Linked DNA regions of Homo sapiens. The protein of the gene in region 2 interacts with the protein of the main gene of each other region in a biochemical or structural test. Each region holds a gene or a part of one and is shown on either strand. Other genes may lie near its edges.

What was found.
Region 1: of the proteins of WNK1 (region 2) and KLHL3, one has a biochemical effect on the other in vitro, tested with the Homo sapiens proteins (2 studies listed by BioGRID).
Region 3: of the proteins of WNK1 (region 2) and OXSR1, one has a biochemical effect on the other in vitro, tested with the Homo sapiens proteins (2 studies listed by BioGRID and IntAct, with this or other methods).

The regions. Positions count from the first base shown.
Region 1 is NC_000005.10:137,733,090-137,741,087, reverse strand, and holds the start of KLHL3 (kelch-like protein 3), read left to right. Parts: upstream 1-4,998; 5' UTR 4,999-5,441; coding exon 5,442-5,455; intron 5,456-7,998. UniProt on the Homo sapiens protein: Substrate-specific adapter of a BCR (BTB-CUL3-RBX1) E3 ubiquitin ligase complex that acts as a regulator of ion transport in the distal nephron.
Region 2 is NC_000012.12:755,556-762,583, reverse strand, and holds part of WNK1 (serine/threonine-protein kinase WNK1), read right to left. Parts: intron 1-7,028. UniProt on the Homo sapiens protein: Serine/threonine-protein kinase component of the WNK1-SPAK/OSR1 kinase cascade, which acts as a key regulator of blood pressure and regulatory volume increase by promoting ion influx.
Region 3 is NC_000003.12:38,245,509-38,252,536, forward strand, and holds part of OXSR1 (serine/threonine-protein kinase OSR1), read left to right. Parts: intron 1-566; coding exon 567-713; intron 714-2,159; coding exon 2,160-2,224; intron 2,225-4,457; coding exon 4,458-4,510; intron 4,511-5,894; coding exon 5,895-5,963; intron 5,964-6,819; coding exon 6,820-6,884; intron 6,885-7,028. UniProt on the Homo sapiens protein: Effector serine/threonine-protein kinase component of the WNK-SPAK/OSR1 kinase cascade, which is involved in various processes, such as ion transport, response to hypertonic stress and blood pressure.

The DNA.
Region 1 (7,998 bases), on a different chromosome or scaffold from region 2:
TGATTCTAAACAAAGTTGGTGTAGATGGCTGAATACATTGCTTTGGGGTAGAGATCTGGGGCCACTAGGGACTTTTGATAAGCTGTAGAAGAAGGCTGGGGTGTGGGAAGGACTGGGCTAAGACAGTGGTCCCTAGGTCACAGACTGGTACTGGTCCATGGCCTGTTAAGAATTGGGATGCACAGCAGGAGGTGAGCAGCCGGCAAGCGAGCATGACCACCTGACCTCTGTCTCCTGTCAGCTCAGCAGTGGCATTAGATTCTCCTAGGAGCATGAACCCTATTGTGAACTGTGTGTGCAAGGGATCTAGGTTGTGCGCTCCTTGAGAAGCTATCTAATGCCTGATGATCTGAGGTGGAACAGTTTCATCCTGAAACCATCATCCCCCCTGACCCCCCACCCCCATCCTTGGAAAAGTTGCCTTCCATGAAACTGGTCCCTGGTGCCAAAAAGGTTGGGGCCTGCTGGACTAAGACACTATTATTGCTGAGCAATCTGAGGATGGGACCTTTTTCTCCAGACAGATACCACATTGATTATTTTGACTCTCCTCTACTGCAGGACTCCAATAGCAACTGTCCTTAATCTGAAGTCCAGTCAGGAAAATTAGCATAGAGCAAACAGGTTCAGACTGTGGTCCAGAGAACATTTGGATAATAAGGTAGAAAATGTAAAATGTGTTTCTGAAACTGGAAAATATTGGGGGTAGGAACTTTGTGCCAGGAGTCTGGAGACTTTGCTTCTTGACTCAGCTCTGCCCCTGGTTTTGCTAGATAACCTTTCTTCCTTTTTTTTTTTTTTCCTAAATTTCATCTTTAATTTTAGATCGAGGGGTACATGTACAGGTTTGTTACATGGGTATCTTGCATGATGCTGAGGTTTGGGGTATGAATGATCCTGTCACCTAGGTAATGAGCATGGTACCCAATAGGTAGCTTTTCAACTACCTTTTTAGGCTTGCTCCTTGTATTAGGTGGTTATTGTGTTGTTATAAAGAAATACCTGAGGCTTGGTAATTTATAAAGAAAAGAGGTTTAATTGCCTCATGGCTCTGCAGGCTGTACAGGAAGCGTGCTGGCATCTGCTTCCGGGGAGGCCTCAGGAAGCTTACAATTGTGGTGGAAGGCAAAGGGGGAGCTGGTATATCACGTGATGAGAGCAGAGGCAAGAGAGTGAGGAGGAAGGTGCCACACACTTTTAAACAACCAGATCTCGAGTGAACTCAGAGTGAAAACTCTTTATTATGGGGACAGTGTGAAACTATTATGAGTGATCTGCCCCTATGACCCAAGCACCTCCCACTAGGCCCTATCTCCAACTCTAACACTGAGGATTACATTCCAGCATGAGATTTGGAGGCTACCAACATCCAAATCATATAACCCCTTTTCCCTCCCTCCATCCTCTAGTAGTCCCCAGTATCTATTGTTCCCATCTTCATGTCCATATGTACCCAATGTTTAGCTCCCACTTATAACTGAGAATGTGTGACATTTGGTTTTCTATTTCTGCACTAATTCACATAGGATAATGGCCTCTCGCTGCTTTCATGTTGCCACAGAGGACATGATTTTATTCTTTTTTTATGACTGTGTAGTATTCCTTGGTATATATATACCACACATTCTTTATTCAGTCCACCATTGATGGGCACCTAACTTGATTTTTTGTCTTTGCTATTTTGAATAGTGCTGCGATGAACATACAAGTGCATGTGCCTTTTTGGCAGAATGGTTTATTTTCTTTTGAGCATATACCTAGTAATGGGATTGCTGGGTCGAATGGTGGTTCTATTTTTAGTTCTTTGAGAAATCTCCAGACTGCCTTCCATAGTAGCTGAACTAATTTACATTCACCAGCAGTGTATAAGCATTCCCTTTCCTCCACAGCCTTGACAACATCTGTTATTTTTAGACTTTTTAATAATGGTCATTTTGACTGGTGTGAGATGGTATCTCATTGTGGTTTTGATTTGCATTTCTCTGGTGAGTAGTGACGATGAGCATTTTTTCATGTTTGTTGGCTGTTTGTATGTCTTCTTTTGAGAAACGTCTGTTCATGTCCATTGCCCACTTTTAAAAATGGGTTTACATGTTTTTTGCTTGTTGAATTAAATTCCTTATAGATTCTGCATATTAGACCTTTGTCAGATGCAGTTTATGAATATTTTCTCCTATTCCGTACATTGTCTGTTTACTCTGTTGATAGTTTCTTTTGCTATACGAAGCTCTTTAGTTTAATTAGGTCTTACTTGTCAATTTTTGCTTTTGCTGCATTGCTAGAAGGGTATTTCCTAGGTTTTTTTCCTTTTTTAAATAGTTTTAGGTCTTACATTTAATTGTTTACTCCATCTTGGGTTTATTTTATTTTATTTTTTGAGACAGAGTCTTGCTCTGTCACCCAGGCTGGAGTGCAGTGGTGCAGTCTTGGCTCACTATAACCTCTGCCTCCCAGGTTCAAGTGATCCTCCTGCCTCGGGCTCCCAAGTAGCTGAGACTACAGGCACATGCCACCACACCTGGCTAATTGTAGTATTTTTAGTAAAGATGGGGTTTTACCAGGTTGGCCAGGCTGGTCTCAAACTCTTGACCTCAGGTGATCTGCCCGCCTTGGCCTCCCAAAGTGTTGGGATTACAGGTATGAGCCACTGTGCCTGAGTTAATTTTTATATATGGTGATAGGGTCCAGTTTCTTCTGCATATGGATAGCCAGTTATCCCAGCATCATTTATTGAAGTCCTTTCCCCATTGCTTATTTTTGTTGACTTTGTCGAAAATCAGTTGGTTGTAGGTGAACAGCTTTATTTCTGGGTTCTCTTTTCTGTTCCATTGGTCTATGTGTCTGTTTTTGTACCAATACCATACTGTTTTGGTTACTGTAGCCTTGTAGTATAGTTTGAAGTCAGTTAATGTGGTGCCTCCAGTTTTGTTCTTTTTGCTTAAGATGACCTTTCTTTTCTAAATGGCCTCTTCTGAGTGTTCTCTATTCTGTCTACCTCCTGTGAATCATGAGTGGTGAATAAAGTATGAAGGTGTAGTCGTATGGTTTTGCAGGGAAATTTAGCAGGGTTTTATACTGGCTCTTAATAGTTATATTTTGAAACTTGAATACATACAACCCTTACATATTTCCTTTTCTGATCTTTTTTCTTTGTCTGGTTTGTTAGATGTGGCATTTCCACACCTTCCTGTATGGCGAATATGTAAACGTGGGTATGTGCAAAGGAGGAGTCATCTCTTTCTTATGTCCCTTTTATGAATCACCCAGTTGTGTTCCTGGTGGATGTCTGAACTCTGGCACGGATTCCGAGATTCAGTTTCCTTATTTGTGATGTTCAGCTTTTTGTGGTCCCTGTGATTGGCCTCAAGAGGAAATATCTGGAGCAGGGCCACAAGGCTGATTAGAGGAGGAAGGGACATAGAGGGAACAAGATATGAGGGGTATTGTTGTGCAAGGAAGAAGTGAAGATACAGCCCTGTGGGGTGTAAATGAAATTATCCAGGCCTCTTCTCACTTGAGAAAGAGTGAGTGTGAGTAATGGCCTTGTCTAAGAGAACACTGAGGTGCCAGGGGAGGTAATCTTTGAGAATAACCCTGTAGCCAGTTTGAGTTCAGGAGGCTATATAAAGTTTTAGTTACTTTTACTTTCTGTCACCTCAGTGTTCCTCTCTTCCTTCTGTGGTTTTAGGGCTTTGTAGTAGTGAAGAAATTTAACAGGTTAAAATGATAAGGATGATAGATTTACTGAGCGTCTCTTCGTACTTTCACCTACATCATGTTATCCTCCTTGAAGCCCCCTACAACACATTGGAGCCTAGTATTTCTTCTTAAACAATCACACGGATTACTCTGAGAAGAAAAACGGACCATTTAAAACATTTTTAGAATCCTGTGATCTTGGAGCTGAAAGGGACTCTAAAGATTGTCTGGTCTGACCCTATATTGTGAATGAGTAGCTGAGCATGAGGTCCAGAGTGTGGAGAACACTACTCAGGAAAGTCACTCACCCAGTGAGTGCTGGTGTGGATTCGGAAAAGCCCAGGGGTGCCATGAGGTGTCCCAGAAGAGAGATGCTCATAGCTGATTTTTTTCTGAGGCATTAGGATAGCTTCTGCACCACTTTTTGCAGCTAATTGTCCCAGTTACCTCTAAGCCTCTGTGGCTAGGATATACAGACTGGCCTCATGCCTTCCACAAGATTATGTTTTAGTTTGGGAAAGAAGATTTATAAATAATGAATTAGCCAAGACTGTATATTAGGTGTGAGATGACGATACAGGAAAGTATAGTTTGTGTATTTTGGTGGTGATTGACTGTCATTGGTGTGATTAGGGAAGGTTTTATGAAGACATGGGATTTGACTGGACTCCCAGAAAGACTAAAGGACTGGGATTGGAGAAGGCATTTCAGGCAGGGAGAGTTAAATTAGTCTAAATTGAAGCTCAGCAGCTGGAGATTACAGGATGTGAAAGATCTTTGGCTGGATATGGGGGTTCAGTGGGAGACTTACTAGTTGGAGCCACTGCTTAAGTTAAATTCCAATATGACAGATTTTAGGAAGATATTTTAGGATTGTGCTAAGATATTTTAGTATTCATTGTGATAGCTTTACTGCAGTAGTCTTTGGCCTCTTGCAGTAAAATAGGGTTTGTTTCAGTTTCACCTATTTGTACTACCTCTCTTTTTCGACTAGTTTTCCAATTTCTCTCTGTATTCTCTTAATTTCTCTCTGTGTTTTTCTCACTTCTGTCAGGTGCTTTTCCCTTAACTTCTCCCCATCTATCAGACACTCAGAGCTACTACAGAATTTGGGAGGAGGATTTGGAACATAAACTGTGACCTACAAGTGAATTTCCCCAGGTGGATGATAAACTCCACTGCAGGCCACAGAGGGGCCTCCTCATTCCAGCAATCTGGCCAGGCTGACAGACTCATAGCCTATGGGAGCAGGGGAGGGTGTAGGGGCCAGTATTTCTCGGGCTAGTGACGAACTGCCTGATTCTTTGCAGCCTAGACAGAGGAGGCAGGAGCCCCAGGGGCGGGCTAATCGCCTGGGCTGGGGATGCCTGGGCAGATGCAGAGGAAGCTGGAAAGGTGGCAGTGCACCTGGGTCGCTGGAGCTGCCGCCGTTCCTAGGAGACCAAGGAGCAGCAAGCCTGCGGGGGAGGGGGAGCAAGTGGGTTGCTGCTTTTAGCAGCTGAAAGGGCTGCAGGGAGCTCTGGGTAAGACATTTTCTGTTGCTGCTGCTTTTGCGGTAGAAGCTGCTGCGAGTAAGTCAGAGGAAGGAGGATTGAGAAGGGAGGAGGCTTCACTTGCAGCCATGCTGAATCACTGTTGCTGATCAGATTTCCCACTGGTCTGCTGGGAGAATCAAGAACAGAACTAGGATCCCCGAGTGCATACACAGTTCAGCAGCTACCACCCTGGCTGGGCCTCACACAATGGAGGGTGAAAGGTATGTATGTATAAGTGTGTGCTGTGTTGTGTGTGTATGTAAGTGTATGTGTGCTTGCGGTGCAGCCACCAGCTTTTGTGTTTGCATTGGCTAGGCAGAGTTGGAAGACCTGGCCACTGATGGATCTTAAAGGGCGCCAGAACAAGAGCAGGAAAGCCGCTTTCCAAATCACCCGTTCCAGGGCTTGAATCTCCAGAGATCTGGCTTCCGCAAAGGCAGGTCTGGGTTTGCTAGGCAGCGGAGCACCCTGAAAGAAGGGACTTCCTGGCTGGTGTTCGGGAATAGTTTCAGCACAGGCTGAATCAGATTGCCTTTCTCAGGCTGTTTCAAGGAGGCGTTTCCCTTTCCTGGCTCCTTTCCCGGGGTGTTTTTTCTTTGGTGGGGGGTTTTTGATGTCATAGTGGGGCTGACCTGACATAGTGTACTTGCATTTTCACGCAGGAGTGCTTGAATCTTCAGCAAGCATGCCATGCTGATGGCTGTGTGTGTGCGCGCGTGCACGCCGTGTATGCCTGTATACACACACATTCAGGGATGAAGGAGAGAAACCCAGTCAGATGATACTTGCTCTGAACTGAGTTTCATATTTGTATTGAAAAGTTTATGAGTGATACTGGAAGGTCTGTGCTTCCTCCATCAGGGATTTCTTTTGAAATAGGAACCAGCAGAAAAGATTTTAAGTACTTTTGTTGAGCTGGATCTAACTAGCGAGGCAGTTAGATCCTGGCAGGCACACACATCTAAATTTTTAAATTGTTATCTGAAGATCTGAATCTTTCATTGTGAAGGTGCTCAGCGCAGTGCAGAGGTGACATTCCTCTGTCTATGAAGTAAAATATCTCTTGAGTGCCAACCTCTTCATTCTTTGGTCTGCAGTTGGTAGAGTACGAGGCTTGCCATTTTATCTGAGGAGAGAAGACTGCAGGGAGGGGTCCGGCCATGGCAGTGCACCACTGAGGGGAAGCCTGCTGCTCCAGATTGCCAGTTTGATGCAGACAGTAACCATCTGGTTAACAATAATAGGCTCAACTAAGTCAACACTAGAGAGTATCTCAATGAACACTTTCCTTTTCATGAGTTGTTGTGACTTCTGTGTCTCACGGGGCACAGTGATGCCATTAAACATCTCTAGACCCTATTAGAACTAGCATGATGATTGGGTGTCATTCTTTTGTCTGTAGAGGCCCTGGGAACTGTGTTTCTTGATGACTCCCACAGGAAGAGCCTGGGACTGACTGTGCTGCTGGTGCATTCTCTTTCTGGGTGCTCTTTGCAACAGGAGTTTAGTGTTGAACTCTGTGAGGCCTGCTGAGCAGCAGAATATGAAGGCCTATTTCCTAAGTGTGGGGCAGAGGTGAGCAGTGTCTTTGGTCCCCAAAACAGTGTCCCATTGATCTGGTAGGTGGCAGAGAATGGGGTTGATGCGATGAAGGTTTAGAGATTCTGGGCCATGCCTATTTGCTTGACCTGTGGTGTAACTGGGGTTGAGAGGTCAGTGTGAGACTACCAGCAGCGGATCAAACAGTTTTGGGCACTGTGTTCCCAGTTCTGTGTTCAGAAATATAGTGAGTCCTTGCCCCTGTCCTGGGGCCTCTCAGCTGGGATGGCTGATGTCTATGGCTTTAGAACACCAGGTTGCACATGTTCTTGTACTTTTCCTCTGCTGAAGGCAGATGGTAGACAAGAAATCCAAACCGAGCAGCTTCCAATGTTCACCAGGTCACCCAGGTCATACCTTTTGTTCCTGCTCCAAGTCCAGCTTACCATGCCACGCGTTCAAGTCTTCTGAACTCTAACTCCTGTTCCCATTTCCACTGCTCACTCATATACCTACTGAGAATTCTGTTGATCTCTTTCATGATCACCCATCCTATACATTACTCCATCTAGCCTCATATCCTTAGCTCCCAGAGTTTCTTTTGCTGGATGTCTTTCCCTTCCAATTTTGCAAAAGTTATCTATCTATCAAGGTTATTCTAAAATTCTACTTTATCTTGGAAACTCAGCTTTTCTAGTCCTGGCTGATGTTCTTCGGAATTCTAATACCTCTGGTTTGTATCTCATAGTTGGACACTGAATAATAGGCCCACCAGATCTTTCAGTGCTTTTATTTCATATATCTTAGCAGTCCCCAGACTTGGAGACAGGTCCTCAAGGGCAAGGCTGGTGCCTTGTACTTCTAAATACCCCCATTGACTACTGCATGGGTACACAAATAGCAGGTGCTGAATAGTTATTAGCTGATTAGCTAATAACTTTTGTGTGAGGCTCTGATAACTAAAAAGAAAGTTGGTGAAAGAAGAGACTGAAGCCTTTGGCCAATAGCCTCATCTTTGGATATCAGCCTTATTATCTTAGCACGGGTAACTGACTTCAAGGAATGCTTTGAGGTAGGGGGAGAACAGAGGGAAGTAGCCTTGTTTTACAAGTTCCCTGGGAAATTGAGGTCCAGAGAAGCTGAGTGACTCGCCTAGGATCACATGTCCAACCTCCAGAGACTGGAGGGATCCTCAATCTGGTGCTCATTCCACACTTAACCTGCT
Region 2 (7,028 bases):
CTTTCTACACATAAGAACAGTCCGCCCTCCACATCCTCAGGTTCCATATCCACATGTTCTGCATCCATGGATTCAACTAACTGCAGATGAAAATATTGGGGGAAAAAACAATAACAAAACACAATAATAAAAAACAACATGAATTTTAAAACACTACAGTATAAAAACTATTTACATAGCACTTACATTGTATTAGGTATTATAAGTAATTTAGTGATGACTTAAACTATACGTGAGGAGCCACACCTGTAATCCCAGCGTTTTGGGAGGCAGAGGCAGATGGATCACTTGAGGTCAGGAGTTCGAGACCAGCCTGGCCAACGTGATGAAACCCCATCTCTACTAAAAATACAAAAATTAGTTGGGCATGGTAGCATGTGCCTGTAATCCCAGCTACTCGGGAGGCTGAGGCATGACAATCGCTTGAACCCAGGAGGCAGAGGTAGCAGTGAGCTGAGATTGTGCCACTGTACTCCAGCCTGGGCAACAGAGCAAGACTCAGCCTCAAAAAAAAAAAAAAATTAAATTAAAAAATAAACTATACAGGAGGATGTACTACTGTAGGTTATATGAAAATACACCATTTTATTTAAGAGACTTGTGCATTTGTGAATTTTGGTACCCTGGGGTGGGGGCTGTCTGGAACCAATCTCCTGTGTATACTGACGGATGACTGTGTGTGAGAGGGGCAATATGGAGAGTTCAAAGAACATTTTAATATGACAATGATATCTAGTAACTCTTTAGCATGTTAAAGAGATAAATCTGTTGCATTTCCCGATTTACCTTAATCCACAATAATCTACCAGTCCATGGAAGGAGATGATCCACATAAAGATAGATATATCAGGTTATGTAGCTCAAAACTCTTAGCCATGAAAATGATCTTATCCCAAGAAATCTGTTAATCTCTATCTAGTAACAGAGAATGTGCACATTAATCATTTGATTCACTAATTAATTTCATCTCTCACTGTTTGGTTTATACATTAGTGTGTGTTTGGTTAACTAGACCATCTACCACGTATCTACTGACAAAAATAATATTGTCTCTGAGAAGCTGAACCTCAGCTGCACAAAAGGTATCTGCAGGAATGACTGTGGTTTTTCTTAACTAACCTGAGTATGATGATTACAACAAGCAAATTTCCAAACACTCTTAAATTCAAACTGTTAAAATTCTTAAGAATTCTTACATTCCTGAGAAAATTATTTGCTTGTTATGACTAACAGCTTATCTGAGGACTCTTCTAAAAAATCATTCCAACATATTCATTTAGCATAATGTATTTAATATGGTAATTTGGCAAAGCCAAGATTCAAGTCACAACACTAAAAAGTAAATTATTTATGAAACCCCACCTGAAAAATCTAAATTAATGTAAGTGAAGGTGGAGATATTATATGATCAATTAAGTTGGCCACAAAACCACAGCTTACTGATGCTTTTCCTCTTATGTAAAAATCACAAATAACCAATCTTTTAAAAACTACATATAGACCAGGAACGGCGGCTCATGCCTGTAATCCCAGCACTTTAAGAGGCCAAGGCAGGTGGATCACCTGAGGTCAGGAGTTTGAGACCAGCCTGTCCAACACGGTGAAACTCTGTCTCTATTAAAAATACAAAAAAAAAAAAAAAATTAGCCGGGTGTGGTTGTGGGTGCCTGTAATCCCAGCTACTCTGGAGGCTGAGGCAGGAGAATCGCTTGAACACAGGAGGTGGAGGTTTCAGTGAGCCAAGATCCCAAGATCACGCCACTGCACTCCAGCCTGGGCGACAGAGCAAGACCCCATCAAAAACAACAACAATAAAAAAAAAACTACATATAAAATTAAGCCTGCTACCTGTCAAAGGCATAATCATCTTCCAAATAAAATATTAAGAGCTTCTGACAATGTTTCTTCAAACTGAAAAGCTCCCCTGTTAAGATTTGAGAAATTAAGTTGACAAAGCAAAAAGCTCCTAAAATCCAACTAAGTTTAATATATTCCATTTGTAATAGGTGACAATTTATAGCCTTCTAAATGAATATTTAAGTATTCTGTTATATTTTATATAACACTTAACATTTTTCAAAGTACATTCACATAGTATTTCAGTGGATCTTCAACAATCCTAAATCAGTAAGACATATTGCTAATAAATGAGCATTATAGATTAAGTTCCTTACTCAAAGCTCAGAAAATTGGGTAATCTAGAACTCAAGGGTTCTGCCTTGGTGCTCCTTTTCATTGTATAGTATTCTATTACACCATAGTGAACTTTCCAAAGACTAATGGATTAGACAAAATATATAAACAATTTCAATATGATAAATAAATACTATAAGAATTATATATGAGATCCACCAAAAGAAAATATGCTTTCTAGATACATGCAAAGATGAGACAAGGATCTTAGCAGATTCTGAAAATAAGCAGTTCAGAAAGATTGGCATTTGGGTGATGGGTCACAAAATTAAAATGTTAGGCAAAGGCCAGGTAGAGCTAAGGAATTTAAAAGCACCAGTAACATAAAGATCAATACCTGCTTTCCTCCTCCTCCAAGAACAGTAGTTAAGTTTTGCTATATGATTTTTCAAGCATAAATATAAACAAACAAAATCTTCACAGATTCCCTCAAAAGGACAACCTAAAAAAGATGCTGCATCATCACAGTTAATATTTATGTGGCAGGCCCTATCCTACATGTTTTATATATGTTCATTCATTTAATCAGCACAACTCTATAAAATGGGTACTCTTTTTTACACCCATTTTACAGACAGGAAACTGTAGCACAAAACTTGCTCAAGGTGACACAATTATGTAGCTGAGCCTTGATTTGAGCCCAGGCAATCTAGTTCTTAACTACTATGTTACAAGGCAGAAAAATGGCCTCTTCAAACATAAACTGAGGTCATGCTAAGTCTCACCTATTCCTGCAGACCAGGTTTTAAAACAAAACAAAACGGCTGAGCATGGTGGCTCAAGCCTGTAATCCCAGGACTTTGGGAGGCCAAGGCGGGCAGATCACGAGGTCAGGTGTTCAAGACCAGCCTGGCCAACATGGTGAAACCCCATCTCTACTAAAAATACAAAAATTAGCCGGGCGTGGTGGCGCTCGCCTGTAATCCCAGCTACTCAGGGGGCTGAGGCAGGAGCATTGCTGGAACCCGGGAGGTGGAGGTTGCAGTGAGCCGAGATCGCGCCACTGTACTCCAGCCTGGGCGACAGAGTGAGACTCTGTCTCAAAAACAAAAAAACAAAAAACTCAAACAAAATGCAAGTTACTAAATATATAATTTAAATTATCAATATAATTTAAAGAACTGGTATAGCAAAGGTGTACTAACGGTAATTATGAATTATTTCATAGTATGCTAAATATTTTCAGAAATGATAATTGAGTACAGCTACTCTTGCTGCTTTTACAGCTTTATCTAAAAAAATGTAAAAACTACCAGAAAACCCAAATAACAGGTTTAGGATGATTTCTGAAAATGAGAGCCCAGTTTTAGTTGAATGTTTCCATAGGGATGAACTAAGATGAATTTTATTTATATTTATATACATATATTTTTTATTTTTTGAAATTCTTTGATAAGCTGCTGGTGGAATAAGATAAATTTTAAATGACTAGGCTCTTGCATCAGAATTTGAATGTCAAGAAATGAATTGTCACAAAGCAACAATAGATTCCTGGTTTGTTTTACACAAAAACAACCTCTTTCCAGGTTTTTAGATTACTTCTCAGACTGTGTTACTACGGGTCAGAAAAAAGGTAAGAGAAAAAAATTTGCCAATACTCCTAATCGGTGACTTTGAGGATTTAAGAACAAACTCCAAAAACTATTCCCTGAGACGGAAAGTTACGCTGATTCTCATCCTAAAAAATAAGGAATGTGGCACAAATTTAAAAGATAAGAGGGAAAAAATCACCAACATTCAAATAGAGAGATTCAGTTCAATTAGATATTTTAAGAACTATAGCAGACCATCCTGGCTAACAAGGTGAAACCCCGTCTCTACTAAAAATACAAAAAATTAGCCGGGCACGGTGGCGGGCGCCTGTAGTCCCAGCTACTCGGGAGGCTGAGGCAGGAGAATGGCGTGAACCCAGGAAGTGGAGCTTGCAGTGAGCCGAGATTGCGCCACTGCAGTCCGCAGTCCGGCCTGGGCGACAGAGCGAGACTCCGTCTCAAAAAAAAAAAAAAAAAAAAAAAAAGAACTATAGCAAAGAAATAAATGATGGTTTCTTAATCACAGAACCACATCCCATTTCTGTAACACTGCTATACTATTCACAAAATATTAATGTCATGTACTCATGACACACAGTCTTAATAAAAGACAGAGAAAAATAAGCAGTTAAGTATATTGGAGCTTCAACAAAAATATGATTTAACCTCTCTTTTCAGGTAGATGTGGAAACAATCTCATCAACATATAACGCATCATGTGAACTCTTCAGAGGCAACTTGGGAAGGTGCTTAAAATAAATCATTCTTAAATCTGTGCATCAATGTTTTCTTTTTCTTTCTTTCTTTTTTTTTTTTTTTTTTTAGAGACAGAGTCTCACCCTGTCACCCAGGCTGGAGTGCAGTGGTGCGATCTCGACTCACTGCAACCTCTGCCTCCCGGGTTCAAACAATTCTCCTGCCTCAGCCTCTCGAGTAGCTGGGATTACAGGCGTGCGGACCACGCCCAGCTAATTTTTGTATTTTTAGTAGAGATGGGGTTTCGCCATGTTGGCCAGGCTGTTCTCGAACTCCTGACCGCGTGATCCACCCGCCTCGGCCTCCCAAAGTGCTGGGATTACAGGCGTGAGCCACCGCACCCGGCTCCATCAATGTTTTCTTAAAGGAAATTATGCTATCTTTTTTGAAAAACCAGATCCCTTTCTAGAAAAGCAATGTAAACTCTGCAGATAGAGCCCAACAGTAATATTTTCTGACCAAGACAACCAAATATTAAAATTAAGGTGCACTACTTGTCTAATAAAACCAGTTAAAGAAATCTGCATCTTAAACATCTCGGTAATTACTGAAGGTCCTGTGGTATCAAAATATTACCTAGGCATTATTTACTAAGAATTGATGCTTGTAATTAGCTGGGTGTGGTGGGGTGCGCCTGTACTCCCAGCTACTTGGGAGGCTGAGGCAGGAGAATCGCTTGAACCCAGGAGGCGGAGGTTGCAGTGAGCTCAGATTGCGCCACTGCACTCTAGCCTGGAGATAGAGCAAGACTCCGTCTCTTTTTTTTTTTAAAAAAAAAAAAAAAAAAAAAAAAGAATTGATGCTTGTTTTACTAAAGAGCAATGCATAGCATGACTCTAAAAAAATTAGCATGACAGAAAATAGCTTGATTTGTATACCATATTGACCCATCCACAAAAGCCTATTTATATCTCAATTTGAAGTGATAAAAATCAACACCCAAAACAGAAGCCTGAAATTTGCCATGGGTATAAGGACCGGGTTTCTCCAGAAATCCAACAGCCACTTCCACACCAACACAATATTGCTTCATTTGAAATGACTTATTAGCCATCTACTGGACTACAAATGCTTTGTCATCTCCCAAATTATTAGATCCTAACTAGCTTTTGTTCTTCATCTACCTAATCAAGTTATTTACCTGCTCTATGATTTCAGGTTCCTTATTTGTCAAATAAATAGCTGGGCAGAATAACCTAAGATTTCTCCCAGTTTCAATACACTAAGATTTTTAACTCAACAACTTAACTCAATATTCTCCTGTCTTGCTTCAGAAATATATGTATATTAAAAGGATAGATTTAGCGAAAAAGTTTCTATCTTTCCAGTGCTTTAGTAATCCCTTGGCTTGTCCTTTAATTTGGCTCCAAAGATAAAAGTTCAAACACTGACCCACTGAATATTTTATTAGGCATGTAGTGCAAGTGTCCTGGTCAAAAAACCAAAAATACTGCCTAACTACTGCTATAAAGGATTTTTCAGGTAAGATAATCTTTTCAAAATCAAAACAAAAAATTACAGAAGCACAGACAAATAACATGGAAGTTTCTAAACCAGGTACCACTTAATAAGCTAGGATTCATCTAGTTCTGCAGCCAAATCCTGAAATGACTCAAAAATAATATGCGATGTAAGATTTTCTTTAGTTTGGTAATGCCCATGCCTAGATAGAGAATTAAAAATCCAAAAAGTTACGAGTTCTAAGAAAACCTGAGAAGCTTGGACAAAGTTTTTATCGTGACATTAGACAAATTAAGTTTTTTTCACTGTATTATCAGTTCCAAGATAATAAAGTATCAGAAAATTCCAGGTGATAAAAGGAAAACACACATCACATGCTAAGAAGTCTCAGAAGTGAAATAATTAAAACTAACAAAATTAATTCATAAAGTGCTCAACAAGTAATTGGGTCCAGTCTTAAAAAAGTAAGGTAACCGGTTAAGGAAAACAAAATTGTTAAAAAGCACCTATTCAAATATAAAACTATAATGGAAGAATAAAATTCCAGCATCAGTATCAATAAGCATCGATAGTACAAGAAAGAAATGTGTCTACCTGTAAATTTCTGCCTGTAAACCAAAAGGAATCGGACATAAGTTTTTTTGTTGTTGTTGTTTTTGTTTGTTTTTGAGACGGAGTCTCGCTCTGTCACCACGCTGCAGTGCGATGGTGCGATCTCCGCTCACTGCAACCTCCACCTGCTGGGTTCAAGATATTCTCCTGCCTCAGCCTCCCGAGTAGTTGGAATTACAGGCGCGCGCCACCATACCCGGCTAATTTTTGTATTTTTAGTAGAGTCGGGGTTTCCCCATGTTGGTCAGGCTGGTCTCGAACTCCTAACCCCGTGATCCACCCGCCTTGGCCTCCCAAAGTGCTGGGATTACAGGCGTGAGCCACCGTGCCTGGCCCAGACTAAGTTTTTTGAATATGACTGACCAAAATGAACAGTTTTCGTTTGACGAGGTTTTTTTTTTTTAAAGATCTGTCACCTTTTCAATTCTAAAATACTATAAAATTAATGAGTAGTTTTAATTTCACACTACCTTA
Region 3 (7,028 bases), on a different chromosome or scaffold from region 2:
TCTGTAATTTTGTATTACATACTTAAATCTGTATTTTGGAGGTGCTGTTTTGCTGGGCAAAGGAATGGAATAGATTTTGTTAAAGATAAATATAATGCAAACTGAAGACAGACACAAAAGACTATATATTATATGATTCCATTTATATGAAATATCCAGAAAAGCAAATTTATAGAAATTAGGATCAGTTGTTGCCTATGGCTGGGTGTGGAAGCAGGAACTAACTATAGGCATGAGAGGACTTTTTGGGGGTGATGGAAGTGTTCTAAAACGATTGTGGTGATGGTTGCACAATTCTATATATGGTACAAAAATCGCCAAATTGTACAGTTACAGTGGGTAAATGTAGAGAAATATAAATTATACCTCACAGAGTTGTTAAAAGTTTAAAAGCCTAGAAATATTTGACTTCCGTTTGGAATAGATATATTCGGAGTAGACACAAAACCTGTACACTACCCAAAAACTACTTTGAAAATATCACCCTGAAAGGCTGAACTTGCTGTCAGCAGACCTGCCTCCCTTTCCACACAACTTAAGCAACACTGTGTGTGTTTTTGTTACAGCTCTTTCCAACAACTGATCCTGTGGGTACTTTGCTCCAAGTTCCAGAACAGATCTCTGCTCATCTACCTCAGCCAGCTGGGCAGATTGCTACACAGCCAACTCAAGTCTCTCTCCCACCCACCGCAGAGCCAGCAAAAACAGCTCAGGTAAAGCCGGGGATATGGTTTCATGGTCACTCCTTTGGATAGATGAAAAGAGCAGATATTAACGTGGAATATAACCTAATGTAATCAGGTTAATGTCTTGGTAGATTTTGAAACAAGTTAGAAATTCTGTCTTCACATTTTTAAGCATGTACAGGTAAGAGAATTTTACAAGGATCACATGCAGGTTTTTAAGCAACAGAATAAGTTAATGATGGAAATATTTCAAACATCAAAAATTTTGGGCTAATTTCTTGTCAGCTTTGTATTAGATAATTACATTTAACTTCAGAATGCAGCTCATGAAGTTCAACAGAGACTAGGAGAATCGATGGCTGTACTGTTTTTGTTGTTGTTGTTCACTCAGGCTTATACTTTTTATTAATACTCTTTGTTTTCTGTGGTTTTTCTCTATTACTCTTTTTAAGTTATTTGTCAATTTTGTGAGGGTTGGTTTGTTAAGTCCGGGTATTATAATCTGTAAATCATTTATCCAGGTGCACACAAACTTTATTAAATCATACTTCATTGAGAGCAGCCAAGTGAATGAAGGCCCCGTAGTGGGCTGCTACATGCTGTGTAACTCCTTCTCTCCCTTCAATAAACCTCAGACACTGCATACAACATGTGGCCCTATGGTACATGGTTAAAGTAAGACTTTCAACGTCCATTTATTAAATATTAGAAGTTCCATTTTCTTGTCTAACGTTTTAGATGAAAAGAAATATAAATTAAAGGTCTGATTTTTTTTTTTTTCTTTTGCACCCCAGTAGATCATCTCGTGTTCTGCCTTTGGAGATCACTGCTTTGAGCATTTCCAATTAGTCATGGCACTTACTTCATTTAACTTTGCATCCCTCAAGCTTTCCATTTCTGCTTGGCATATGGGAAAAGATACAGTTGTCTTAGGAAAATTGATGGAAAAATTAGATTCATTTTATAAACAACTTAAATCGAATGCATGTCCTCCCATAAGCAAGCGCTGTACAATTTTCAGAGAGGATTAGTTTAGCCATAAAAAGACTGGAACCTATGTATGGGTTGGATGGATTTCTGAAGGGCAGCTGGTTCAGGGTCTACCTTTTGTACTGCCATATGGTGCACTGGCAGATTTTTTAAAAATGAGAAACCTAGCTTTGTGTTTTTCAGTCTTGTAGAGGGGAACAGGGGTCTCAGAAATATAAAATGTAAATGTGGCTATATGTGAAATTTCATCTGGGCTTGAGAGTTTTCTTTCTCATTGTGTTGGACTTAAACTGACATTCAGCTTTTGTTGCTGCCTTGGAGTGCATGTCCTCCTCCAGCAGGGAATGTCCTGGGGATTAGTATGACCTCAGCTGGAGATGAAGAAAATTGCTGCCAAGTAAATGATTCCTCTGCCAGTGACCATTAGTCACCTCCCCACTTAATGTTTCAGGCAATGACTGTATACCTTTCAATGCTTTTTAGGCTTTGTCTTCAGGATCAGGTTCACAAGAAACCAAGATCCCAATCAGTCTAGTACTAAGATTAAGGTAAGTAGACATTTTTTGTTTTGTTTTCTTTTGTTTTCTGAATATTCTGCATGTGCTGTAATAGTCTGTGCCTGAGAGTAACTGGATAGGATTGTATGTCCTCCAGCATCAAGCTCTGTTTGCTTGGTGGTGTATTATTTTTCCCCAGAAATAATAGCAACAGTGTGAGGACCTGCATGTTAGCAGGTGTTGTGACTAACTGATGCACATGTTCTCTCAGTTGTTTCTGTGCTAATTGGTGATGAGTTTGTGTATTTACAGTGTAGCTAGTTTGGGTTAGGAGGTGTAGCCTGTAATTGAGGAACAGTTTTTAGGGGAGCAGCACTAACTGGCTTATCTGAAGATCAGTCTTATAATTGTGACGAGGTAAACTCTGAGATCAACTAACCCAAGAGGGGAGCACTTTTTGATTGTGGTAGATCAAATAAAGGCCTTGTTTTTAGAAGGTTAAAAGGAAACTTCTAAATGTTTTTGTAGTCTGTTTCTGTTTTGCAGCAAGTACCCTAAATTGGTGGTTCTTGGTGGGAACATATAGAGAGGTCCTGACAGATTGCTCAGCAGGAAGTGCCATAGGTAGCAGTCTGTTCATTTTAACTCCCTGCCCCGCCCCCCCCGCCCCTAGCACTAGTAGCTGGATTCAAATTCCAGAGCTTTCTTGTCAGAATCACTATGGCTGTTGTATTGCTCTAGTTAGGTCTCTTTCTACTCATAAATGCATTTGAAAAAAAATTAGTATTAAAGTATCACTTGAGGCAACTCAGGCCTTTTAAAACTATTACTAACATTTTAAAAAAGAGTTCCACTGAATTACCATTAACTCATTCCCCTTGCACATATAAATTCCTAGTCATCTTTCTGTAAGGTCCTAATTGGAGATAGAGGCAGCAAGAGCTATTTAAGAGAATGTGGTAAGGAGAATCTCATTGCTCCTTGCCACTAGGAGCAATGCATTTATGCCATAAATGTGAAAAACATATTTGGTTACCTTTCCTTTACAGAAGCCTACTTAGTATACCTGGTCTCATCTCAAAAATTCTGAGTTACTAGGATGTCTTGACAACTTCATGCTGTTTTAAATCTACATAAAGAATAACACTTTAAGAAAATTATTGTGAAATGTATTAAGCACAGACTATGTATAGCACTCTTCGGTACTGTGGAAAGGTGGATACTGAGAAAAGAGAAAATTAAATGACTCCCTTAATAATCAAGTCTAGGTTGGAAGTTGATTTGAACTATGTACTTACACAGCTAAAAGCAAATTTCAGGTAGTATATACATGCAGAAGTATAAGTTTGTATGTACCTGTGTAGAAAGAACGCAATGCAAGGGAAAATCATTTGGGGCATGTTATATTTGAGATGGGTAGTTCTATTTTAAGCACAATTTCAGTAACATCCTCAAGTATATTATTCATCAAATAGAAGTAAACCCTCTCCATTATTTATATAAAATAGATTTGAGTCCTAAGTGAGCAGGCATATCTGCCCTTAGATATAGTGTTCTCATTTCTCTGTCTTTAAACAAAACCTCCAGGGATCCTGCTTAATCTCAGTGCATGGTGTGATCATCACTGTAACTGTACCTCACCAGTCAGGTTTGAATTTCTGGAGTCATATAGTAACTCTGCTACCAGTATGGACCCAATTCCTTTCCCTATCCTCTCTGCCTACCTAAATCCTGCATATCTGTTAAGTCCTATATAAAAACTACCTCTAAAATTTTTCCTTATTATCCCCATCTCTCATATATTCTTTGAATTCCTATGGAATTTGAGGGAGTATCATGTATTTCATTTTATGAGTCTGCCAAGACTGATCACCAGAGGTAGGCAATGAATTGTGGGCATGTAGGAGTGGGGATAAGGATGAAAAAGGCATCCTGTATCATTTTAATCACACCTCCCTGTGCTCATACAATTTTCCTCTTAGTTTTATATGTTCTTGGTGTGGGAATAAGGATGGGAGTGGGCATATAAGAATCTACTCAAAGGCATGAAATTTTTATATTGATCAGTAAGGGACATAGATTCAAAGGGTTGTAGGACAATTAGATGGTCATTCCGAATTGGTTTTGCTCTGAGCTCTGCAGTGTGAACATATCTGAATACATCATATGATCTATGGGAACAAAACAGACTTTCTTGAGGCACAGCTTTCTTAATATATGTTGGCAGAATCTCTTTGCATAAATTTAGAAATTCTTATTTTATGCATTCTGCTTTCTTTCATAGGAATTCCAAAAAAGAACTAAATGATATTCGATTTGAATTTACTCCTGGGAGAGGTGAGGCATCAAATGGATTGAAAACAAAATAGCTTCCAATTTGTGATTCAATGAAATGTGTTGTGAAGTTTCTGTCCTTTGTGAAGTTTTGCTTTTAAAGGATAATAAAAATTTTCCTGGTTTTGGCGAGTATATGAGTGAGATAAAAATGCAGTTCGTTGACTACTAAACACATTTAGAAAACCTTGTATAATAATACAAACAGTAATAAATATATGATAGCTCTTTACAGCTTACTATAGGCCAGGCATTGTCTTAAGCGTTATCTTATTAAATTCTCACAGCAGTCTACTAAGGAAAAATTATTATCCCCATAGTATCGATGATGAAATCAAGACTTAAAGGCAAAGTAACTTGTTCAAGGTCACACAGCTGGAAAGAGGTATAGCTGGAATTCAAACCAGATCTGTCAGAATCCAAAGTTCATTCTTTATACATGGTTGTTCTCCATGATGGTAAAGAAACAAGGTCTGCAGTCTCCTCTCTCCTCAGACAGAAGCTGAGGTCTGTCATGTACTGTTTCTGGCTGTTGAACTTCACCTTGAACAAGGTGTGTTTTGTTTCTTGCCTTTATTACTCAGTGTTCTAATTTGGGGAGTAGCCAGCAAGTATCTGTTCTGTGTATCATGCTTATTCTTCTTGCTGTCTCACTATCATGAGCAACTAACCACTAAAGAGAAAAGATGCAGGTGTACAGAGGTGTCACCTGTTTTACTTTTTAAACACCAGGCAACATCACATTTTCAGGAATTAATTCAAATTGCTGGTTGCCTGTGTGAATGTGTGGACACTGTCTCCACCGCAGTCCTCCTGTTCCCTCTGAGGGGCTCATTTTCAAGCCCTTGGCAACCAATACCACTGAGTTGGTTGAAGATGAGGTTAATTGGGGATATTCTGTCCTCATCTTTTTAGTTTCTGGTTATACCCATTGCTCAGATTGTACCACCTGGAATAACTAGATAAGAAGAAAAGCCCACCAGAATAAAAAAGTAAATGATTTTAGCAAAAAACTTGGAGTATGATTCCCAAAGAGAAGAGACAAAAATTTTTTGAGACAAAAATTGTTGCCTTAGTTTTTGAGAATAAATCATTCTGGTTTTTTAGCCCTAGAGATGTTCAGTATTCAACATCATGTCTCAGATATTTGCTACCTGGTTTATACAGATTCTGCCCTCTAGCTAGATCTGTGAGAATTCCACTTGAGATAATCTCAGTGGTAGGAAAAGTCTTTGTATGGAAGGAAGGCCCTGCCTGCCTTCTTGGTTCTGTGGATTTAGCATCCAGCTTGGGCCTAGCATGGCACACTGACACCCACATGAGCTGTGAGAGTTAACAGTGGCAAGCACGCACAAAAAACAGAGCACTGTCTTCTTTGTCCTTGCAGATACAGCAGAGGGTGTCTCTCAGGAACTCATTTCTGCTGGCCTGGTCGACGGAAGGGATTTAGTAATAGGTAACTCCATTGCGTTCTGCTCATGTGCTCCTGTGTCTCTGTCTGTATACTTAGTACATAGAAAAGCAGGTTTTTTATTCCACTGAGTAGGTCTGATGGTTCTTGAAATGGTTCTTGGCTTTCCTGAAATTATAGGTAATGGGACAGTTCCTTACACACACACAAAATTTCACCTCTGAGTTTGCTTTGTGACCTCCAATGATGGTAAGTGAAAGCACACCCAAGGTCTTTAGGAGATTAATAGAAATTATGGCAAAAGTCACAAGTTAAAGTAAGCTTGGCCATATCTGATCTGTTTTGGATACCTAATTTTTGTGGCCCAAGTTGAGCAAAAGTCATTAGAGATTTAGTACTAGAAAAGCAGGAAGGAAGAGAGAAGGCCCAGTGAGGCCACAGGTCCATGTTACTGAAGGAAAAGACCATGTCCTTAGACACAGTTTTCCGTGAAAAACCAGATAATAAATAGTTTAGGCCTTGCGGGCCATGTACAGTGTCTGTCACTTTTAAACCACTCTTAGCTTGCCGGAGAACAAAAACAGACCACAGGCTGGTTTGTTGACTTCTGGCCTTGGGCTTTCTGATCCATAAATCAGGAAATCATACCTCTTTTACCTGCATGTTTTTCCTAGGTTAATACAACATTTTAAAGAAAGTTAATTTGACAGTGGTTCAAGGTGTACTACTCAGAAATGAGTTTAAAAGACACTTTCATTAGGGGAGTGATTATTTGATCTGTCTGCTTCCATTTTGATTGTACGGAGCATATTCTTAACTACCATTTAAGCTTTTAAAATATGGTTGAAAGTGGATTTATGTAACTTCTCATTCATTACCTTCTCTGTTTGTATGATTACAGTGGCAGCTAATTTGCAGAAAATTGTGGAAGAACCTCAGTCAAATCGATCTGTCACTTTCAAACTGGTACTCATCCCTTCTTCCTTGTGAAAACATCTTGCCTTTTATACACTGGCAGCTTCTCCAGACCAGCTTCTATATCCCCTGAGTGATGAGAATATTAAAATGTGGTGGATTGTGTTCATTTAGCCTCCCCAGTGCCCTGGGCTG